Homo sapiens: one gene and its partners. The protein of the gene in region 1 purifies or fractionates together with the protein of each later gene. This does not show direct contact. Each region holds a gene or a part of one and is shown in the gene's direction. Other genes may lie near its edges.

Region 1 (7,112 bases):
TTTATGAGGAATACCAGACCACACTGGGGGCCAGCATCCTCTCCAAGATTATCATATTGGGTGACACAACTTTGAAGTTACAGGTGAGCAGCCCTCCTTTTCCCTCTTCAACATACATACACTGAAAATCCCCCCCAAGCCCGGACAGCCACTCATGTAGCAATGTGAACCAGAGCTAGAATGGTCTAGAGCAGAGATGAGCAAACTTCAGCTCATGGGCCAAATCTGATCCACCTCCTATTTTTGTAAATAAGACTTCACTGGGGCACAGCCATAACCATTGGTTAGCTTATCAAGTTATGCAGTACAATGGCAGAGTTGAGTAATAATTGGCATATAGAGACAGAATGACCTGCAAAGCCTAAAATATTTACTATCTGTTATTTATAGAAAAAAAAATGCTGATGCCTGATCTAGAAGGAAGGACATTAATCCAGGAGTTGAGAGACCCCACGCCTAGTCTCAGGTTCTCTGGAAAACCTGGCAGGTGATCTTAGGCAAGACATTCCCGAGGTCCAAGTTTCCATATCTGTCAGATGGGAATAACAATTGCCACCTTGATGACCCAGAGGAAAAATGAGAGCTCAGATGTGAAATTACTCTCAGGATGTTAAATGTTACCACAAAGGTGCTGGAGTGTATGTGGGTGGGAGGGTCAACGTGCCACGGTGTGAAAGAACCATATGCACCTGTACCAGGGCCTGCTGCTCCCTACCCAGCAAAAGAAGCCTTGACATGATGTAATCCAGCTGGGCCTCCTTCCAGCCATTCATCACAGCCCCATGGGGCAACTGCTTTCCCCTCCAGATCTGGGACACGGGCGGTCAGGAGCGGTTCCGCTCCATGGTGTCCACGTTCTACAAGGGCTCCGATGGCTGCATCCTAGCTTTTGATGTCACCGACCTGGAGTCTTTTGAAGCCCTGGATATCTGGCGGGGTGATGTCCTGGCCAAGATTGTCCCCATGGAGCAGTCCTACCCCATGGTGTTGTTGGGGAACAAGATCGATCTGGCAGACCGGAAGGTACTGTTCGTTCATTTATTCATTCAACAAACATTATATGAGCACCCACTATGTGCCAGGCACAGTGTTAGGTCCCACACATACAGAGCTGAATCAGGCATAGTCCTTACTTCAGGAATTTCACAGTCTAGTAGTAGATACAGACATTTTAAAAGGTAATTATAAAATAAAATGGTAATTATGGTACAATACGGTAAATGAAATAATAGAGATATACCTTGGGCATTAAGGAACCACAATAGAGAGGCATCTACCCAAGCCTAGAATATAGGACAGGTTTGCTGGAAGAGCTGGGTTCTGGGCTGAATAAACAGCATGATATAAGCTGAGAACTAAAGGTAATTTTGTCCAGAGACAGGGAAAGGAGGAGTTAAGGCATCAGATGTAGGCAGGAGGGAGGTCACAGTGGAATTTGAATTAATCTGTGGCACAGCATTTCTGCCTGGGGTCAAGTTGGAGGTCTGCAGTTATAAATTCTTGGATATACAAGTTTTCTGGGGAAGTAATAATTTTTGTATTAGCTTAAGCATATTCCGGACCATCGGGTTAACCACTTGACAGTTGGTCTGCTCCATGACTACAGTGACCCCACTTGTGTAGGCGTTTACCATTACACGGCATTGAGAAGACAGCACTTCTAATCCTTGCCTACTAATGAGGAAAGAATACGGTAGACTGAATTTGTAAAAGATGCTCTTGGGCCAAAAGTCCAGATGCCACCAAAAAGAGCTGTTTAAACCAAGTTTCTCTTTTTAGTGTGATGGGGAACTGGATCATCATGTCTGAATTGCATTTTCACAATGGTTCAAATAGAGAAAAGCAATGGAAATGAGGCATCATTTGGCATGATAAAGTGTGTTTATGGAAGGAGAAAGGGAGAGAGGGATGGTGCTTCCAACTGAGCTAACATCTACAGAAGAGAGCCTCTGGTTCATAAAGACACATTTTTGGTTTGGACATGGCGAGTTTGAGGAGCTTGTACAGCTAGTTGGAAATGGCCAGCAGGCTTTGGAATGCGTAAGAATGAAATTTCAAAGGAGAAGTCTGTGCTGGAAATAGAGATCTACGAGTCATCGGTTCTGTGGTCACTTCAGGTTGTAAACTCCATGTCAATTCTCTAATTACAAATATCCAGCCTCAGATAATAAGCAAAGTCCTAAGTTCATTCAAAGGCAAGGTGTCTCCATTTTTTCCCCCACTGGGACCAGCTGTGGGTGAGAACCTTGTGGTCTAAGAGAGGGAATAGGTCCTTAGAATCTCACTGCCAACCTTGAGGTCCACACTTCCTCCTCTTATCTGGGATAGTAATTCTGGTTTCAGACCCTGTCAGGAGTGAAGCAGGAAGAGGGAGAAGAGGTCAGGAGAGCAGAGCAATTCTAATTTGGCTTGTACTATCATAAGACAGTCTTGGCCGGGCACAGTGGCTCACGCCTGTAATCCCAGCACTTTGGGAGGCAGAGGCAGGCGAATCATGAGGTCTGGAGTTCGAGACCAGACTGGCCAACATGGTGAAACCCCGCCTCTACTAAAAATACGTGGTGGTGGGCATCTGTAATCCCAGCTACTCAGGAGGATGAGGCAGGAGAATCGCTTGAACCTGGGAGGCGGAAGTTGCAGTGAGCCGCGATCGCACCACTGCACTCCAGCCTGGGCAACAATGCGAGACTTCATCTCAAAAAAAAAAAAAAGAAAGAAAGAAAAAGACAGTCTTGCACTCTCTGGCCTGAGAGGTGTTGCAAGCCCTTTCTTCTGTGGGTCACTCCTGTGGGTCCTTCGGAAGCCTCCACTGGGAACATTTCGCTGTACCTCCCATGACAAGGGTCTTGCATTCTCCTCCTCAACCCCTGGCTTTCAGCATCCCCACCCCATGGGGGTCACCTTTTCCTCCAAGCAGTCTTTAAGTGGGATTTAGCCAGCCCCAGCCTGTTGCTCTCTCTCTCTCTCTCTGTTGAATCCACATGTCCTTCACAAGGCACACTCATGCATTCTGGCTCCACTGGGGGACAAGGGTAGCTGGTGCCCAGTGCAGCCTCTTCTCTCTCTGCCCCGTTGACTGTTGCCTCAGATACCTCAGGTGTGTGTCAGACACCAGTCCACCATGTCCACCAAACTCCAGGGGTTGTACATTAACGACTCTCCTCAATACCATCTTTTAGCTAGAGATGAGTCCTTAACTGTTCCTCCTCTTGGGAGAGGCAAGGGTAGTTGTGCCCACAACACAACTCTCTCCAAGGAAATCCCTCCTAATCCTCATTTTCAAGCGCTTTATATCCACGCTGTGGGATTTAGAGTCATCCAAGAGAGTCTTGATCATGAGCCTTTGGGAATATGTATCCAGGGTAGACTGTCTCCACCTGCTTTATATCTGACATCTGTCCAGTTGTTGCGCCTCTGCCAAAACTTTCATTTTAACTTCCATCTTGTTTCATGTCTGTAGGGTGTGGGGAGGGAAGCTGGGGGAGTTCAAGACCGAGAGTCAGTGAAATAAGTGGTGCCATCTTCTGTTGAGAGGGAGGAAACCAATACGAGGCTTAAGAAACATGAGGAAGCTTTGCCAGTTACTCTTGGGAGAAGTGGGAGGAGGAGCTACTTGGGGACAAGGACAAGTTCTGATGGGTGACACCAAGGACTCCGCTGAAGGAGGAGACTGGGAGTTTGAGGTGGGGTCTCCGTAGGGTACCAGCCAGGAGCAAGGAACTTGGACTAGGGCTTTTCCAACCAAGAGAAGATGAAGGACAGAGCTGCGAGGGCACCAAGAAACCACGAAGGAAAGAAGAGGGACCAGGGGAGGCAGAAGGGCCAGGGCTGGGGTGGCGGAGGCTGGGGAACAGGGCAGCAGGAGGAAGGGCCTGAGGGGGTTGAGGGAAAGGAGATCGGGGCACAGGAGACCAGGTTTCTTATTTTACAGAGGCCCTGAGAGGAAGAGGCTGACATGGAGAGATTGAGGGCAGCAAAGGATTTCTGAGGCTACCATGAGAGGTGGCGGCTGCGTATAGAGGGGTTAGGAGGCCTCACCAGATGGCAAGTGTTTAGTGAATGAGGGGCACCTGGCAAGGTGAGGAGGGCGGGTGGTGACTCGCGGGAGTAGAGGGGGTCCAATCCAAGCCCCAGGGTGGGTGATCTTTGGTGTCCAGAGAGAGGAAGAACAAAGGTTTGAAAGAGGCAATGAGGCACCAGGCAAGCCAGCCCCCTCTCTGGGATCTGTGGTGAGTAAAGTCTGCAAATAGCCCCAGTGGGGAAGGCAAGAGGGGGCGCTGGGGAAGCGTGACTCTAGGAAAAGCCAGGGTTCAGCCAGACAGGGAGGTCCCTGGAGAGGATGGAGGAGGGGTGAGGAGAGGATGGAGGAGAGGATGGAGGAGAGGGGAGCCTGTCTCTCAACAAGGTAGGCCCAGGGAAGGGGTTTGTAGGGAGGTGGAATAGGATAGGGGAGGGGAGGAGGCACTGAGCGACAGTGAAATCAGGACAGGACGTGGAGAGGATGAGGTGTGTGGGAGAGAGCAGAAGGGCTTTAATTCTGAGACCTGGGATTATAAAGCCCCAAGAGGGGAGGCTGGGAAGTGCCGGCCCTCAAATGTCCTTACTCTGCACAGACCTAGCAAGGGCTCTGCCTGCCCCTGGCCGGGTGTGGACATGGAGAAGGGGAGCCAAGAGGTACGTTCTTGTGAGGCGCCTTCTCCTCGGAGCCCGTCCCGCAGATGTGGACTCACAGCCGCCCACCTGGTCCATGTGCCTCCGCAGCCTGGACCGGTTCCCTCCTCTGCGGGGCGGAGACCAGAACACAGACTTCCTGAGACTGAGTAATAATAGGAAGGATGTGATTTCCATAATGGAAATAATGGAACAAGGAAATGATCCTCCTTATTATTATCTCCAAGGGACAGCTGGGAAAATACAGCAGCTTCTCCTACCTAATAAGAAGAAAATGAGTATATAAAAATGTACTGCAGTTTGGCCCAGTGGCTCACGCCTGTAATCCCAACACCTTGGGAGACCAAAGTCGGGGGATAGCTTGAGCCCAGGAGTTCGAGACCATCCTGGGCAACATGTCAAGACCCCATCTCTACAAAAGAAAAAAATTTTTTTTAATTAGCCAGGTGTGGTGGCACACCTGTAGTCTGAACTACTCGGAAGGCTGAGCTGGGAGGATCGCTTGAACACGGGAGGGAGAGGCTGCAGTGAGCCAAGATCACACCACTGTGCTCCAGCCTGGGCGACAGAGCAAGACACTAAAAGAAAAAAAAAAAAAAAACCCACACACACATACATACATCATATATACACACATATACATACATATATATACACACATATTTATAATATATATTGCTAGTTTAGGAAGGTGAGAAAATTCTGAAGATGAATAGCAAGGAATGTACAATGTGAATACAATATGAATGTACCGAATGCCCATGAACTGTATGCTTAAAAATGGTTACAATGAGCCAGGTACATTTTATCTGTAATCCCAGCACTATGGGAGGCTGAGGTGGGAGAATCACTTGAGGTCAGGAGTTCAAGACCAACCTGGGCAGCATAGTGAGACCCCCATCTCTCCAAAAACAAAACAAAACAAAAATTTTTTTAAAAAGTGTTTAATTTAAAAATGGTAAATTTTATTAGGTATATTTACCACAGTAAAAACAGGCATATATAGCCAGAATAATTTTAAAGAAATTACTGATTTAGTTTAAAAAAAAATCCCTGTTCCTTCTACAGAAGGTAATATTGAAAAAAAATAGTTTATTAGAAAGAATAGCTTTGCTGGCATCTATGCTACAAGGAATTTATTCACTGGGGCATGAATTATTTGCTCTGTGCTCAGGTGGGTAATTTCTGATTTGCCAGTGATTCCGTAGACTTAAGATCATGTTTTCTAAAAATATCCTTTGTTATTCTTAGTGATGGTTTAATGGTTTAGTAATTAACGTTAGTAATACTAATTTTAGCACTTGTATAATTGATTATTTTAAAAGCACATGAGATGGAAAAGCATCATAAATAAAATGATGCCAACTGGACTAATTTTGTCAAATGTTTGGCCTCCAATGAACAAGTAAAATTGCAACCAGAAAAGTGAAATGTCAGTAGTATATTGTTGACCAAAAGCAACATTAATGCAAGTAACACTTTCAGAATTATCATACTTCCCATGTCCCCAACTATCACACCCTGAGCTTATTTTCAGAGTCAGAGCCTAAGTTATAAATAATTTTCATTTTATAAACAAAAGATGAGACAATTTTAAAAATCATGAAACTGTCTCTGGGATTGGAAGAGAAAAGTGAAAAATACTGTCTGGGTAGCTTTCTTCCCAGGCCAGCTTTCTGAGGTTGGGGTGGGGAGGAGGGGGAGATATAAAAAGAATGTTAATTTGCAACATAATCACAATGATATTTCAGAGTCTGTATGCAATCATTCCAAACCAAACAGAGAGCAGGGAAAAATGAGATTAAAAAGTCTGTCATAACCGGGCACTTGGGTAGATCTGGTCATGGTAAGTCAGAGGAAAGGGTCTGCTGAGATCAGCTGGGACTTTTTATCCCAGTAAGACAGACATTCCCAGGACCTGCAGGAGCCACAGAGACAATTAAACAGGGGCAGTGTTTGATTTGCCTCGGCCTGCACTGTGTTCTGGGAGAGGGGTGGAATGGTCCTTTCTCCATGAGAAAGACCTTGGCTCCCCTAAATAAACTGAAATAATGATTATAAAGTACCAGGCTCAGCAAATGCTCAGTATGTGGTCATTTCCCCTTCCCCAAATAATTAGACATCAAACTCAGGGGTACCAATTGTCTTTGGAAGTAACCCAGAGGGCTTCCAGAGCATTTCCAAGCCAACATCACAAATTGAACGCCGTTTGCACTTGGGTGGAGATGTAGTCATTCAGCCTGTGCCTGGTGGCTCATGTGTGCCAGACCAGGAGCTGAGCTCCTGACCCTGAGCTCCCGAAGGGAGACAGAAAAGGAGAGGCATGGTTCTTATGCAGTGCCCTGTAGAGGGCAGCTCAGATGCCAGGGGGAGCACTGAGCTGGGGCTACATCCAAGCTCTGCCTTCTCTCAGCTATGTGATCTGGGGCAAGTTGCTGAAC
Region 2 (7,112 bases), on another chromosome or scaffold:
TTCTTACACTTAGAAGGAATATTGTTACATACTTTTCTCCAATTTTTGATGCTCAAGACTGTACTGTAAATATATACCTGTATATAAATCAGGAGAACTAATAAGCACAAAACATTTTGCTAAGTTTTCTGAAGAGACCAGCATGTTAAATCATTGGGGATATTTATTAAAGTTTGAAGGTCTGATGCAGTCTGATTGCAGTGAGGACTTAAATTTATGCTGTCATAGAGACTATTGACTAATCCTCAAATAAATATAATTAACTTCGATGTGTTTTTTTGAATGAAAATATATATAGTGTCATTCTTTATTTGTGCTGTGTGTATGCCCAACTAACAGCTGTGAAGTATGTACAAACTTTTCATTTATCCAATATGAGTGTTTTGGAATTTTAACCTAAACACTCCTATTTTTTTTTTTTTTTTTGAGATGGAGTCTCACTCTGTCGCCAGGGCTGGAGTGCAGTGGCGTGATCTTGGCTCACTGCAACCTCCGCCTCCCGAGTTCATGTGATTCTCCTGCTGCAGCCTCTTGAGTAGCTGGGATTACAGGCGCCCGCCACTATGCCCAGCTAAATTTTTGTATTTTTAGTAGAGATGGGGTTTCACCATGTTGGCCAGGCTGGTCTTGAACTCCTGACCTTGTGATTTGCCCGCCTTGGCCTCCCAGAGTGCTGGGATTACAGGCATGAGCCACCGTGCCCGGACACACACTCCTATTTTTAAACCTCACACTTTGAATTTAAAAAAGAAAAAAGGTTACCCTGCCGTAATTAACACACTACTTATTTTTTCAGGCATGTGGGCACATTCCATGACAGTACAGGATTATCAGGATCTCATAGACCGAGGATGGCGAAGGTAAAGCTTCCAGATACAAAGAGACTTCCTACTGTTACTCAGGTTCTTGAAAAATACAGCATGCCTTTGAAATGCTTTCCTGTTGGAAAGAGGTTTAAGAAAAATTTTTATTATATTCTTTTATGTAGTGATTTTTTGTCTCCTTTTTAAAAAACTTTGTTAGGAAAATGTCAAATATCTATAAAAGCAGAGAGTACATTAGAATGAACCTCAAGTACCTATCACTAAGCTTCAGCAGTTATTAACGTTCTGCCAATCATGTTTGATTCTCCTGCTCCACCTTTTAATATTTAACAGCAAATTACATCAGTAGGTTATTATGACATTTATCCTATCAATAGATAGGCAATAAGTATGTATCTCTAAGAGAGAGGTCTTTTTTTCTTTTTAACTTATCCACAATGCTGTATCACACCTTACAAAATTAATAAAAATTCTTTGATGTTACCTGTTACCTACTTTTTATTAGATTTTCCAGATTGTCTCAAAAATGTCTTCTTTAACAGTTTATTTGGATAAGGATTTCCTTAAAGTCCACACATGGCCTGTTTTGAGTAGTTATTTTTATGTGGATGATTTTTAAGTAACTCTTAGGTAAAGTTCCTTGTGTAAATATAAGTAATATTAAATACTGTACGCTAATACTTGCCAAAGACGTGGGATTGGGAGCACCAGCTGAAATATCACAACTTTCCTTAAACTTAATGAGATTCAAAAGGTAGACATAGGTCAGATTTTAAAGGACTTCACATGCCATGATAAGGAACTTTTTTTTTTAGAGACATGGTCTCGCTCTGTTGCCCAGGCTAGAGTCGCTCTCTTGCCCAGGCTAGAGTACAGTGCCATCATCATAGCTCACTGTAACCCCAAATTCCCACACTCAAGTGATCCTCTTGCCTCAGCCTCTGCAGTGGCTAGGACTACAGGTGTGCATCACAACACCTGGCTAATTTTTCAGTTTTTTGTAAGATCTTGGCTATGTTGCCCGTGCTGGTCTCGAACATCTGGTTGCAAGTGTTCTTCCAGCTTAGCTTTTCAAAGTGTTGGGATTATAGGTATGAACCACCATGCCTGGCCAGAACTTTTTAGAAGGCAGTCATGGAAGGATTTTATGGTAAGAGAGAAATGTGAAGGAATTTGTTTTAGAAAAGATTGTTCAGATGGCTGAGAGGTATTTGAGGGGGGGTCATAGAGGCAGGAAGATGAGTTCAAAGGTTATTGCGCTATCCAGATGTGCGATGATGAGGACTGTCACCTTAGTGGCAATGGTGATAGAGAAGAGGGGACAATTTAGGATAGGGTTTAAAATGAAGGAAAGCTTGCTAATAGGATATAGAGGTGAATTCCAGGGAGGAGTTTAAAATGACTCCCAGGTCTCTGACTTGAGAACAGAATGAACAGTTCTGTTAGTACCATAGACCTGGAATGCATGGAAAGAAGCGGGTTAGTTTTGGGGTACTCCGTGCTGGTGCATGTGGAATACCCAAGTGTGGTTGTCACAGGCATCACATACATGAGTCCCACAGCATCGTGGGCATTTCTCTCATTGCCCTTGTGGTATTGGGGATTGGTGGCAGGTGAAGGCAGAGCAGGGGTGGCAGATGCTGGTGAGAGGGGAACTGAGATGATTGGCCGTGGGGTACACAAGTAAAGCTTTAGGAAATAAAAGGCAGGGTTCTAAACTTTGCTACACGCACTTTGAAGATTATTTGGCTTATGAAGAGTAATTAAACCTACATGCATTTCTACAATGTTGATTAGATTTTTAACCTTAATTTAATGCTCCTGTGCTAGGCTGTTTTGGTGCAAGTGAAAAATATATAAGACATTAACAAACTATTTTTATAATTTTAGAAGTGGAAAATATGTGTACAAACCTGTCATGAATCAAACATGTTGTCCTCAGTACACAATAAGGTAAGAATTTTAATTAGTAGAAAGAGGATTTATAGTATGAAGATTGTGTATAATATTTTAGTAGTCTCTTGTGCTTTTTTAATGTTTATTTCCGCTCTAGGTAGATGTCCTTTAAAAGGAAAAGTAAATGAGTTATGTCTTTTCTTCATACTGATGCTGTATTTATGTGCTGATCAGTAGGTTTTAGTAATATTGTTTGATTGGTTCAGATATAAATATGTGAAAAAAATACCCTCTTAATTTAGCAATCTTGTCAATGAATGCCATGAAATATTGGGAAAATGTTGGTAAATATTCACATTACTTTTGGATATTAAATATTATAGGACTTAGCTTAGAATTTTCTGCATTCTGGTGTATTGCTTGACACAGTGCTTGTGTTCAAGCAATGCTACAGGCTCCTATAAATTACTTGGTAGGTTCACGTTCTCATGTTGTGGGATTCAGGAGGACAAGAGAGACCTCGGGTTAAAACAGGAGAAACTTTATTGAGTGCACTTAGGCCCAGCTGACTCAACGTCTAAAAGACTGGGCCCGGAACAAAGACTTTTATACACAGTTCACAGAAGGGGGTGGGCTAGCTTGAAGCAAGCTTACAGTGGCGTGAAAGCAGGGATACAGAGGCAGGACAAACTCAGGATTGCACATGACCGTTGCCAAGCAACCCAGATGTCCGTTATCTAGGTTTGCCTGGGCTTATCCCATAATCTTCACTATGGTGCCCAGGCAGCTGCAGTTCAGGCCTACTCAGGCTTCTCATGACATTCATTGTACTTCTCAGATAAAACAATACTTGAAGTCACTAGTTACAGAGAACAGGAATCTATGAACTCATTCCGTAAAACAAAGGAAAATTTATTTTTTCTTCTCTGCATGTTGAGTGCTGGGAGAATCTCCAGAGCACACTAGATAATATTATCAAGGCTTTTCCTGGGTCTGGGCCGTGCCTGTTGCTGCCTCTGGGACAAGTCGGCCTAATACAGGAAAGCTTATTTATCTTTCTTTTTAATTTTATTTTTCTTTAATTTCCCACCTCACTCACTTATAAGTGGGAGCTAAACCTTGGGTACTCAGACATAAAGATGGCAAAAGTAGAAGCTGGAGACTACTAGAGGAGGAGGGAGGGCGTGAGCTAAGGGTTGAAAAACCAACTTGGTATGACGATCAGTACCTGGGTGGTGGGATCATCCATATTGCAAACCTCAGCATCATGCAATATATCCAGGTCACCAGCCTGTACCTATACCCCCTGAATCTAAAATAAAAGTTGAAAAAAAAATTAATTGGAAGGAAGAGGGCTTAAATTTAATCTGCCACTTACACTTAGAGTCCAGTTTTTTTTTTTTTTTTTTAAAGAGACGGAGTCTCGCACTGTCGCCTGGGCTGGAGTGCAATGGCGCGATCTCGGCTCACTGCAACCTCTGCCTCCTGGGTTCAAGTGATTCTCCTGCCTCAGCCTCCCGAGTAGCTGGGATTACAGGTGCCTGCCACCACGCCCGGCTAATTTTTTGTATTTTTAGTAGAGATGGGGTTTCACTATGTTGGCCAGGCTGGTCTTGAACTCCTGACCTCATGATCCACCTGCCTCAGCCTCCCAAAGTGCTGATATTACAGGCGTGAGCCACTGCACCTGGCCCAGAGTCCAGTTTTCTTAAATGGGAAACTTAAACCAAAGTCTATTTTCCTACAAAGTCTTCGTTGGATTTTTTCATAATCTTTTGGATTTTCCATGTACCTTCTCACCTCACCCTAACATAGAAAAATCTTCTCTCTTATTCTGGTTATAAGGTCATCATCATCTTTTTCTTCTTTTTTCTTTTTTTTTTTGAGACAGGGTCTTGCTCAGGCTGGAATGCAGTAGCACAACCATGGCTCACTGCAGCCTGCCTGCCAGGCTCAAGTAATCCTCCCACCTCAGCCTCCCAAGTAGCTGGGACTGTAGGTACACACCACCAGGCCTGGCAAATTACATTTTTTTTTATAGAAAAGGGGTCTTGCCATGTTTCCTAGGCAGATCTCACCATGTTTCCTAGGCTGATCTCGCCATGTTTCCTAGGCTGATCTCCAACTTCTAGGCTCAAAGGAGCCTCCTGCCTCAGCCTCCCAAAGTGCTGGGATTATAGGTGTGAGCTACTACTGCACCTGAACCTTTTTTTTTGATAGAAAATGTGAAAAGTGCGTTAACATTTTGAAGCATGTATTTGCCCCCAATTTCAATGTGTATATATACTCATAAAATTAAAAGACAGTTTTACTTTAAGAAATGAAAAATTAAAAAATTAAACAGTTTTTTGTCCATTAGTTTTTTTGTTTGGTCCTCAAAGCTGTCTCCCTTGGTTGCTCTTAACTTGTTTTTGGGTTGCAAACCATTTTGAGAAGTCGATGAGAGCTGGCCTCCTGCCCAAAGGGATGTAGACAAAAATATGTAACATTTTGCATATCCTCCCCACCGAGACTGAGTCTTGCTGTGTCACCCAGGCTGGAGTGCAGTGGTGTGATCTCAGCTCACTGCAGTGTCCGCCTCCTGGGTTCTAGCAGTGCTCTTGCCTTAGCCACCTGAGTATCCGGGACTACAGATGCCCACCGCTAGGCCTGGTTAATTTTTGTGTTTTTAGTAGAGACGGGGTTTCACCATGTTGGCCGCGCTACTCTCGAACTCGTGATCTACCCACCTCAAAGTGCTGGGATTTCAGGCGTGAGCCACCATGCCCAGCACATTTTGCGTGTTAATTTTAGAATGATCGCAGACTCCCAAAGGTTCACTGATACTTGATTAGGAGCTTTTTTTTTGAGATGGAGTCTTGCTGTCGCCCAGGCTGGAGTGCAGTGGTGCTATCTCGGCTCACTGCAACCTCTGCCTCCCGTGTTCAAGCGATTCTCCTGCCTCAGCCTCCCGACTAGCTGGGATTACAGGCGTGCACCACCACACCTGGCTAATTTTTTTGATATTTTTAGTAGAGATGGGTTTCACCATGTTGGCCAAGCTGGTCTCGAACTCCTGACCTCAGGTGATCTGCCCGCTTCAGCCCCCCAAAGTGCTGGTGTATCTGGAGTTGGTTCCTTCTGGTGGGTTCTTGGTCTCGCTCACTTCAAGAATGAAGCCGCAGACCTTCGCAGTGAGTGTTACAGCTCTTAAATGTGACGCAGACCCAAAGAATGAGCAGCAGCAAGATTTATTGTGAAGTGTGAAAGAACAAACCTTCCACAGTGTGGAAGGGGACCCTAGTGGGTTGCCACTGCTGGGTAGGGTGGCCAGCTTTTATTCCCTTATTTGTCCCTGCCCATGTCCTGCTGATTGGTCCATTTTACAGAGTGCTGATTGGTCCATTTTATAGAGTGCTGATTGGTCCATTTTATAGAGTGCTGATTGGTCCATTTTACAAACCTCTAGCCACAGAGCACTGATTGGTGCGTTTTACAATCCTCTAGCTAGCTACAGAGCGCCGATTGGGGCGTTTTACAATCCTAGCTACAGAGAGCTGATTGGTGCATTTTACAATCCTCTTGTAAGAAAAGTTCTTCACGTCCCCCCCACCCCCGCCCCGACCCAGAAGTCCAGCTGGCCGTTGGATTGGCAGAGGATGAGAAAAATGGGGTCTGGTTTGCTGACACTGTGTCATTACACAAAGAATAGAATGACAGAGTATCCTGTGCTGTCCTCTTTCAGTTTTCGTGGTTATAAAGAGAAGGTATCTTCTAAGGCAGAAGTCATTTGTCTTCAATTAGCAATTTATTGGATTATGGACAGGATTCTATTCATAAGTTTGAAGTTGATTGGCTTAATCTGTGATCAGAAAAGGGTGATTTCGATTGGTTAAAGAAAAAAGAATCTAAATTGTATTTGGTGCCTGTTACATGGAAAGCACTATTCTAAGCATATTGCCTTTATAAAAGGGGATTCATTAACATTGCAAAATAAAGTAGTTATGTGATTTTTGCATTTTACGTGGCATCAAATGTTTCCTGAATTGCGTCTCTTTGTAATTCATTATACATCATCTTTTTTTTTTTTTTTTGAGACAGAATCTTGTTTAGTCTCCCAGGCTGGAGTGCAGTGGCGCGATCTCTGCTCACTGAAACCTCCGCCTCCCAGGTTCAAGTGATTCTTCTGCCTCAGCCTCCTGAGTAGCTGGGACTACAGGCGCATGCCACCATGCCCTGCTAATTTTTGTATTTTTAGTAGAGACGGGGTTTCACCATATTGGCCAGGTTGGTCTGGAACTCCTGACCTCATGATCCGCCTGCCTTGGCCTCCCAAAGTGCTGGGATTACAGGCGTTGAGCCACTGGGCCCAGCCACATCATCTTTTTATGGAGTCATTTTCCATATTTACTC
Region 3 (7,112 bases), on another chromosome or scaffold:
GCAGATTGTTTTCCTTTAGATAAACAGTCTGCAGCTTAAGATGGTTCGACTTAATGATTTTTCAACTTTGTAATGGTTTTATTGGGGTATTAAATGCACTTTGTCTTACTATATTGGGTTTATCAGGACGTAACCCCATCATAAGTCGAGGAGCACCTGTGTATGTTAAAATCATTGTAATATCTTAGAACTCCAAGGTTCATTTGAAGGCTTATAATGCAGCTACATTGTTTTGTAATTGGTAAATGTGTTTTTATAGTTTTCAAACACTTTTAAATTAGTAGAATTGAACTATTACTGGATTCTGAGGTTTTCTCTGAAAGGTTGAATATCTTTTTAAGAAAATGTCTTTTACCACAGTATAAAGTTTTAAATTTGGGGAAAGATAACCCTTTTAGATGAACAGAATTTTGCTTTCTGAGGATGTCAGTGGAGTTTTAGGAGCTTTTGGGTGTCTTTATATTTTCTCATTAGGTATTAACTTCAACCTTGGCAGAACTCCAAAAATACTGTGGTTGTTTTTAATGGAAAGTGAGGACAGTGTTGTGTTTTTATTGCTTGTGTTTTCCGTAGTGCTAGGAATCTCACCAAATTATAATGTTGAGAACAGTAAAACGATAGTTTATTGATGTAGAAAAAATTTCCGAAGAATAATTTCTTCTCTTCGCTTATACCTTTAATTAAGTATTTTGACTTATATCTTCCAGGTTGTCCAGTACTGGTTAATGTATTTCATTCACTCTATAGGGCCCCCATCACAGAATGTAATAGAGAACCACTGACTAGATCATTTGCTATGCTCAGTTTTCACAGTGTCATCATCATAGTCTGTAATAAGAGAAGTTGCCATATTTTGTCTTATCTGTAAAGTGTAATTAATTATCCTTTCTTAAAATTAAAGGCATGGAACTTTTGCTTTAAGAGTTAGGCATGGAACTTTTACTGAAAAACAAAAAATTAGGTGTGGAACTTTTGCTGAAAATTGTCCCCTTAGATCCCTCATGTAACACACTTTAGTTTTGTTGGTTTTCAAGATAATAAAAGTGAATAAGAGTGTGAACAATTCTGTAGAAAATATATAAATCACCTTTCATATTATGACTCTTCATTCTTAATGCTGTTAATAGCGATGCTATTATGTGCTTATATGGCCAATGGGCTTTTGTCATGTGAATGCAGAAAACCTAGGTATACAGGTTTTGAGTTGACTGTTGAGCTGTGGGCAGTTTAACAATATCTTATTTTTGAGTAGTTTTTTTTTTTTTTTTTTAGACGGAGTTTTGCTCTTGTTGCCCAGGCTGGAGTGCAATGGGACGATCTTGGCTCACTGCTACCTCCGCCTCCTGGGTTCAAGTGATTCTCTGGCCTCAGCCTCCCAAGTAGCTGAGATTACAGGTGCCCATCACCACGCCCAGCTAATTTTTGCATTTTAGTAGAGACTAGGTTTCACCATGTTGGTCAGGCTGGTCTTGAACTCTTGACCTCAAGTGATCCACCCACCTCGGCCTACCACAGTGCTGGGATTACAGGTGTAAGCCACCGTGCCCGGCCTGATTAGTATCTTATCTTTGATTAACCTTTTAGAGTTTATAAACTACTTTTCATATATGTTAGCTTCCTTATCTCACAACAGTTTCATAAAAGGTAAGGCAAATGGACTGATCCCCATTTTATATGTGGTGAATCAGAGAGATTAAATGACTTGCCAAGTGTTTCCTAAGTGATAAATCTAGGATAGAACAAAGTGGGTGTTTTCCTCACTTTGGTTTCCTAGATCTCAAAAATATTCATGTAACATTAATGATATCAATTTGTTTCTTCACTAGATTTTATTAGAATTACTATAACAGTAAATATGGCATTTTATTTCTTGACATTTGAGTGTTATTCTATCATTGTCCCTCATTTTTTTTTGTAGTGTTCATTGTGTTATTTTTAATAAGGCACTTCTTTTTTTCACTTAACTCGGACTTTCTAATTTACAATACCGTGTTTTTTTCTTGGCCTTATTTTTTGTGTTTTTTGCAACAAGTTTGTTTCGCATTTGAAACAAAAATAGTCTGCACGTATAAACCATTATTAATTAAGCATTTATTGGATACCACATCTATGGAGCAGTGTGGTAGGTGTCGTGAGGGGCACAGAAGGAGCGGTGCTAAGGTATTCCCTCAAGGAATTACAGTCTGATTTGGAAGATAAAGGATATACTGGAAAACTAAAGGACTATTAAAAAGGAATGGATAAATACATGCAAGGTAAACTGCATATGTGTATTATGGGAGCATGGTATAATAGAGTGATGAGTGTAATTGGAGTAAGGAAGACTAATTGGAAGTTAAATTTAAACTTTTTCTTAAAGTAGTTTGCTAAAGTATGTGATTATGTTTGAGAATGGAAGAATTGTGATATTATGCAGAGTGGGAAGAAAAGGACAGAAGAAACAAATGATATGAACCAAACTGTCATGATTTGACAATTAGAATTGATAAATTCGGAGTTAGAGATGCCATGTTGGAAAGTAGGTGGAGATGAAACCAGAAGATTAGTAAATAAGGAAGGTGGTTTGGTTTAGAGACAGGAAAAGGAAGATTTTTTTGTGGGGTATTTGATATAAGGAAGGGCTACTGTTAGGGCTACTGTTAGTCAACTAGCAGATTTTTACTTGCCAAGACCAATCACATACAAGGCATTCTGCCAGGTATTGAGCAGTGTGGCAACTCAGTGAAAATAGTGGGTTCTGTGGAGGATAAAATATCACAGAAATTCATAAAGCAGGCAGACTGAATGGGAGCCTGTTCTATAAATCAAGACAATGGTGGACTGAGAATGTTAGCTCCAATAATAAATTTGGAAATGGGGCTTCGACTAGAGTAATAGACATCAGTACTAAAATAGGCAGGAAATTATACAGAAAGGTCCTATTAGATACCACATTGTGATAGGCCAACTTAATCTTTTCAAGGCAGATATTTTTCCCTTTATTGAAGGTCTTCTGTCGTATCACCAAGTCAGGAATTCCTCAGTAATAATCATCTTTGATAACTACCACTGTTGAGTATTTACTATGTCCCAGGCACTGTGTCAGGCTCTTTGCATGCAGTACTTAATTTAATCTTCAAAACAACCTTGTGGTAGGTGGTATTATCTCTGTGTCATAGATGGGTAATTTAGGTGGTCTCAGAGAGGGTAATTTAGGTAATTACCTAAATTGAGGGTAATTTAGGTGGTCTCAGAGAGGATACATAAGTATCTAAGTTCGCAGAGCTTACTAGTCATATGGTCAGGGTTTGAACCAAGATCTGTTATTCTGAAGACTGTGTTCTTCATCACTGTGGTAATTTGCTTCCAATACAGTTCCCCTGTCTGTCTTAAATTCTCAAAAATGTGCATGTGACATGAAATCTTTATATCTTTCAAATCTTAATTTTGTTTCATATTTTACTGAAACATTAACAGATGAATGTTTAATGTCTGAGTCACATAAGCAAAACGTACACTGAACTTGATAAAAGGGGTAAGGGAATATATATATAAAGCCTGGTGTTTATTATTATATTTCTTATTAGTCAGGATTTGCATGAAGATGTCGAAGAAGCTGGTGCACTGCAGAAAAATCATGCTCTTGTGACATCTGCAAACTCCACAGAAGCTGCAGATTCTGCCTTCCTGCCTACGGAGGATGAGTCATTAAGCACTATGAGCTGTGAAATGCTCACAGAACAAACTCCAAGCAGCGATCCAGAGAATGCGCTAGAAGTAAATGGTGCTGAAGTGACAGGGGAAAAAGAAAACCATTGTGATGATAAAACTTGTGTGCCATCAACTTCAGCAGAAGACATGAGTGAAAATGTGCCTATAGCAGAAGATACCACAGAGCAACCAAAGAAAAACAGAATTACTTACTCACAAATTATTAAAGAAGGCAGGAGATTTAATATTGATTTAGTATCAAAGGTAAGTACTAATTTTACCCATCTTTGCATTGAAAACAGTATCTGGGCCCATAAACCCAGTTTTTGTAATTCTCTGAGATGCAGAACATTTGTTTTGTAAAGAGATAGTAGCCAGATGTTTGTAATTCATTTAAAATATTCCTTAAGTACAAATTAAAAACATATTTAAAGTGCTCACATGAAAATGCTTTAATTATGTTTTTAATCTATACCTGAAGAATACTTTTGTGCTTGAGCACATACTACAACCTAATATTCTCTGGACACTATGAATTCTATCAAAAGAAAAATTCTAATGAACCTGTTTAGAAATCCATGTTATTTACAGTCAATTTCCATCGATTCTTTTAGCCTTTATGTATAGTAACTATTTTCACAACTGTATGATGATGAATACTCAGAATAAACCAATGAATTTTTAAAAATCGTGTTCACATGGACACAGCGAGGGGAACATCACACACCAGGGCCTGTCGGGGTTGGGGGTTAGGGAAGGGATAGCATTAGGAGAAATACTTATGTAGATGATGGGTATGTAGATGACGGGTATGTAGATGACGGGTTGATGGGTGCAGCAAAACACCATGGCGTGTGTATACCTATGTAACAAATCTGCACTTTCTGCACATGTATCCCAGAACTTAAAGTATAATTTAAGAAAAAAGTCTCAAAAAAATCATGTGTTCAGGTTTGAAAGCTTCAGAGGAAAATTTAATAGTGATGGAGGCAGGAAGGCTGGGAAGAAAGCTATTGTCTTCGGTTATGTTCCTGAACATAACTAACTTGAATGTTAGTTCACTGTAACTTCACAGGAGGTCCCTCCATCTTAGAAGCGTACAATATTGCATTTGGTTTATAGGAAGCAAGACTATTTTTAGTGCAAAAGAATAGAAAATCAGTAAGATAAAGGATTATGGCCTTAAAGGGTCATGATACAGGACAGGGTAAAAGTAGAGAAAAACAGACTAAATCCTATAAGTTGAGAGCTAACAATAAGTAATTGAAAAGAAGTAGGAGAGGATAGTGAATAGCACAAGACTTGCCACAGAACTAGCACAGAACTAGGCTTTTCAATTTAATGTACTTTCTTCAAGTTCCAAGTGATAGGGGACAGAGAGGGACCAAAACATTTCCCTTGACAAGTTGTTTCTGCAAATCCCATATCCTCATACTCTTGCTCCCTTTGAACTTGATGCCTGAAAATATAAATATCTTTTTACTACCCATTTTTCTTTCTGTCTGTCATGTAGCACTCTGTGTCTGATTTTGCATAGTTGGCTATTGCATTGGTTCTACTTCATACTTCCGTACTATCTCTCCCACCTCCATCTACTTTGACCCTGTCATGATTTGAAATCTAGCATTTTTTCCACATTACCTTGGCTGTTCATCTGTGGATGGAAGTTTAATCCTAGCTCACTAATAACCTTCCTGGTCCCATGAGCAGTACTCTATGAAATAGGTTAAACAAAACATAAAAACTGAACAAGTCAAATAACAAATGGGCTTTGTGTGACAATTCCATTTTGAAGTAATTACTTGGAATTTGGAATGTTTTACCTAAATAAATGATGATATAAATGTGGTTAAGAATCAAGGCTATTTCATAAAAGTCTGTAACTTTTATGTTAGCTGAAATTTAGTATATATCTTGCAAAGGGAAATGGTAGAAGACGGTGCTGTTTCAATTGTAGGAATTGGTGTAGAAAATTATTCAGTTGTATAAGAAAATGAATGCTGGTTGTGGGAGGAAAAAGACAATTGAATTAGAAGTTGACACATTTGAAGATACCCTGAAGGAGACTTCTGGGTATTTTCATCGGTTTGAATGGTTAGTAATAACCAGTTCTCTTATGGTAAGTAAAAACCAAACATGTCTAGAGGCAGTGGACTAGGCAGTTGGGACTGCGTCCTGCAGAGTTTCATGGGTTCATACGTTCTACAAAATAACTAATAAACATTTAATGTACTCATTTTCAAAACCAGAAGTATCTTAATCACATATAACCATAGTAATACAGGAGATTAATTTTCCGTTTTTAAAATGTTAAGTCATTTAATACATATTCAGTGCATGCTAGATGGAAAGCAATGTATTCCATGTTATTGGGGCAATTGGTCACTCCTTAGAAATTTTATCTGTTCTAATAATTGCAGTTAATAAACGTCTAAGTTTAGGATGATTGCCAAATATCTATCTTAAAGCCCTAAAGCCCTACCTCCTTTTTTTTTTTTTTTTTTTTTTTTGAGACAGAGTCTTGCTCTGTTGCCAGGCTGGAGTGCAGTGGCGCCATCTCTGCTCACTGCAACCTCCGTCTCCTGGGTTCAAGTGATTCTCCTGCCTCAGCCCCCTGAGTAGCTAGGACTACAGGCGCGTGCCACTATGCCTGGCTAATTTTTGTATTTTTAGTAGAGATGGGGTTTCACCATGTTGGCCAGGATGGTCTCGATCTCTTGACCCCGTGACCTGCCTGCCTTGGCCCTCCAAAGTACTGGGATTACAGGCGTGAGCCACCGTGCTCGTCCAAAGACCTACCTCTTTTCTAAAGTCCAACTCAGTATCTCCAAACTAGTTGACATTTCTATATGCGTTCAACCTCAAAGACATCATGATATAATTAAATACTGTGGGGCTTTACAGTTGACAATACACATTCATGTATATAGCCTTTTAAAAAGTAATAGCTCAAGGTAGGTTAGTTAAATAAAATACGTATAGTGTCATACTGCTCAGACTAATAGAGAAGGTCAAAGATGAAATTCTTAAAATGAAAGCTCATTTCTAAGTAAGTCCATACTCTTAATAATTATGGAACCAACATGCTAAGGAAAAATTGTTAATTAATAAATCTAATTTCCATTATTGTAATCAAATTGCACTGCTCTTTAGCCCCTCATCACTGTGGTAGATCGCTTAGAGGGTAGTGAAAAAGAGGCTTAGGCTGAGCGTGGTGGCTCAGTCCTGTAATCCCAGCACTTTGGGAGGCTGAAGCGGGCGGATCACCTAAGGTCAGGAGTTCGAGACCAGCCTGACCAACATGGTGAAACCCTGTGTGCTACTAAAAATACAAAAAATTAGCTGGGCGTGGCATTGCATTCCTGTAATGCCAGCTACTCGGGAGGCTGAGGCAGGAGAATCGCTTGAACCTAGGAGACAGA

Evidence for each region.
Region 2: the proteins of RAB7B (region 1) and ATE1 purify together in Homo sapiens (affinity purification with mass spectrometry; 2 studies listed by BioGRID and IntAct, with this or other methods). This does not show direct contact.
Region 3: the proteins of RAB7B (region 1) and CHM purify together in Homo sapiens (affinity purification with mass spectrometry; 2 studies listed by BioGRID and IntAct, with this or other methods). This does not show direct contact.

Annotation. Positions count from the first base shown.
Region 1 is NC_000001.11:205,986,391-205,993,502, reverse strand, and holds part of RAB7B (ras-related protein Rab-7b), read left to right. Parts: coding exon 1-83; intron 84-807; coding exon 808-1,023; intron 1,024-7,112. UniProt on the Homo sapiens protein: Controls vesicular trafficking from endosomes to the trans-Golgi network (TGN). Acts as a negative regulator of TLR9 signaling and can suppress TLR9-triggered TNFA, IL6, and IFNB production in macrophages by promoting TLR9 lysosomal degradation.
Region 2 is NC_000010.11:121,918,014-121,925,125, reverse strand, and holds part of ATE1 (arginyl-tRNA--protein transferase 1), read left to right. Parts: intron 1-796; coding exon 797-860; intron 861-2,714; coding exon 2,715-2,777; intron 2,778-7,112. UniProt on the Homo sapiens protein: Involved in the post-translational conjugation of arginine to the N-terminal aspartate or glutamate of a protein. This arginylation is required for degradation of the protein via the ubiquitin pathway. Does not arginylate cysteine residues.
Region 3 is NC_000023.11:85,960,507-85,967,618, reverse strand, and holds part of CHM (rab proteins geranylgeranyltransferase component A 1), read left to right. Parts: intron 1-3,566; coding exon 3,567-3,954; intron 3,955-7,112. UniProt on the Homo sapiens protein: Substrate-binding subunit of the Rab geranylgeranyltransferase (GGTase) complex.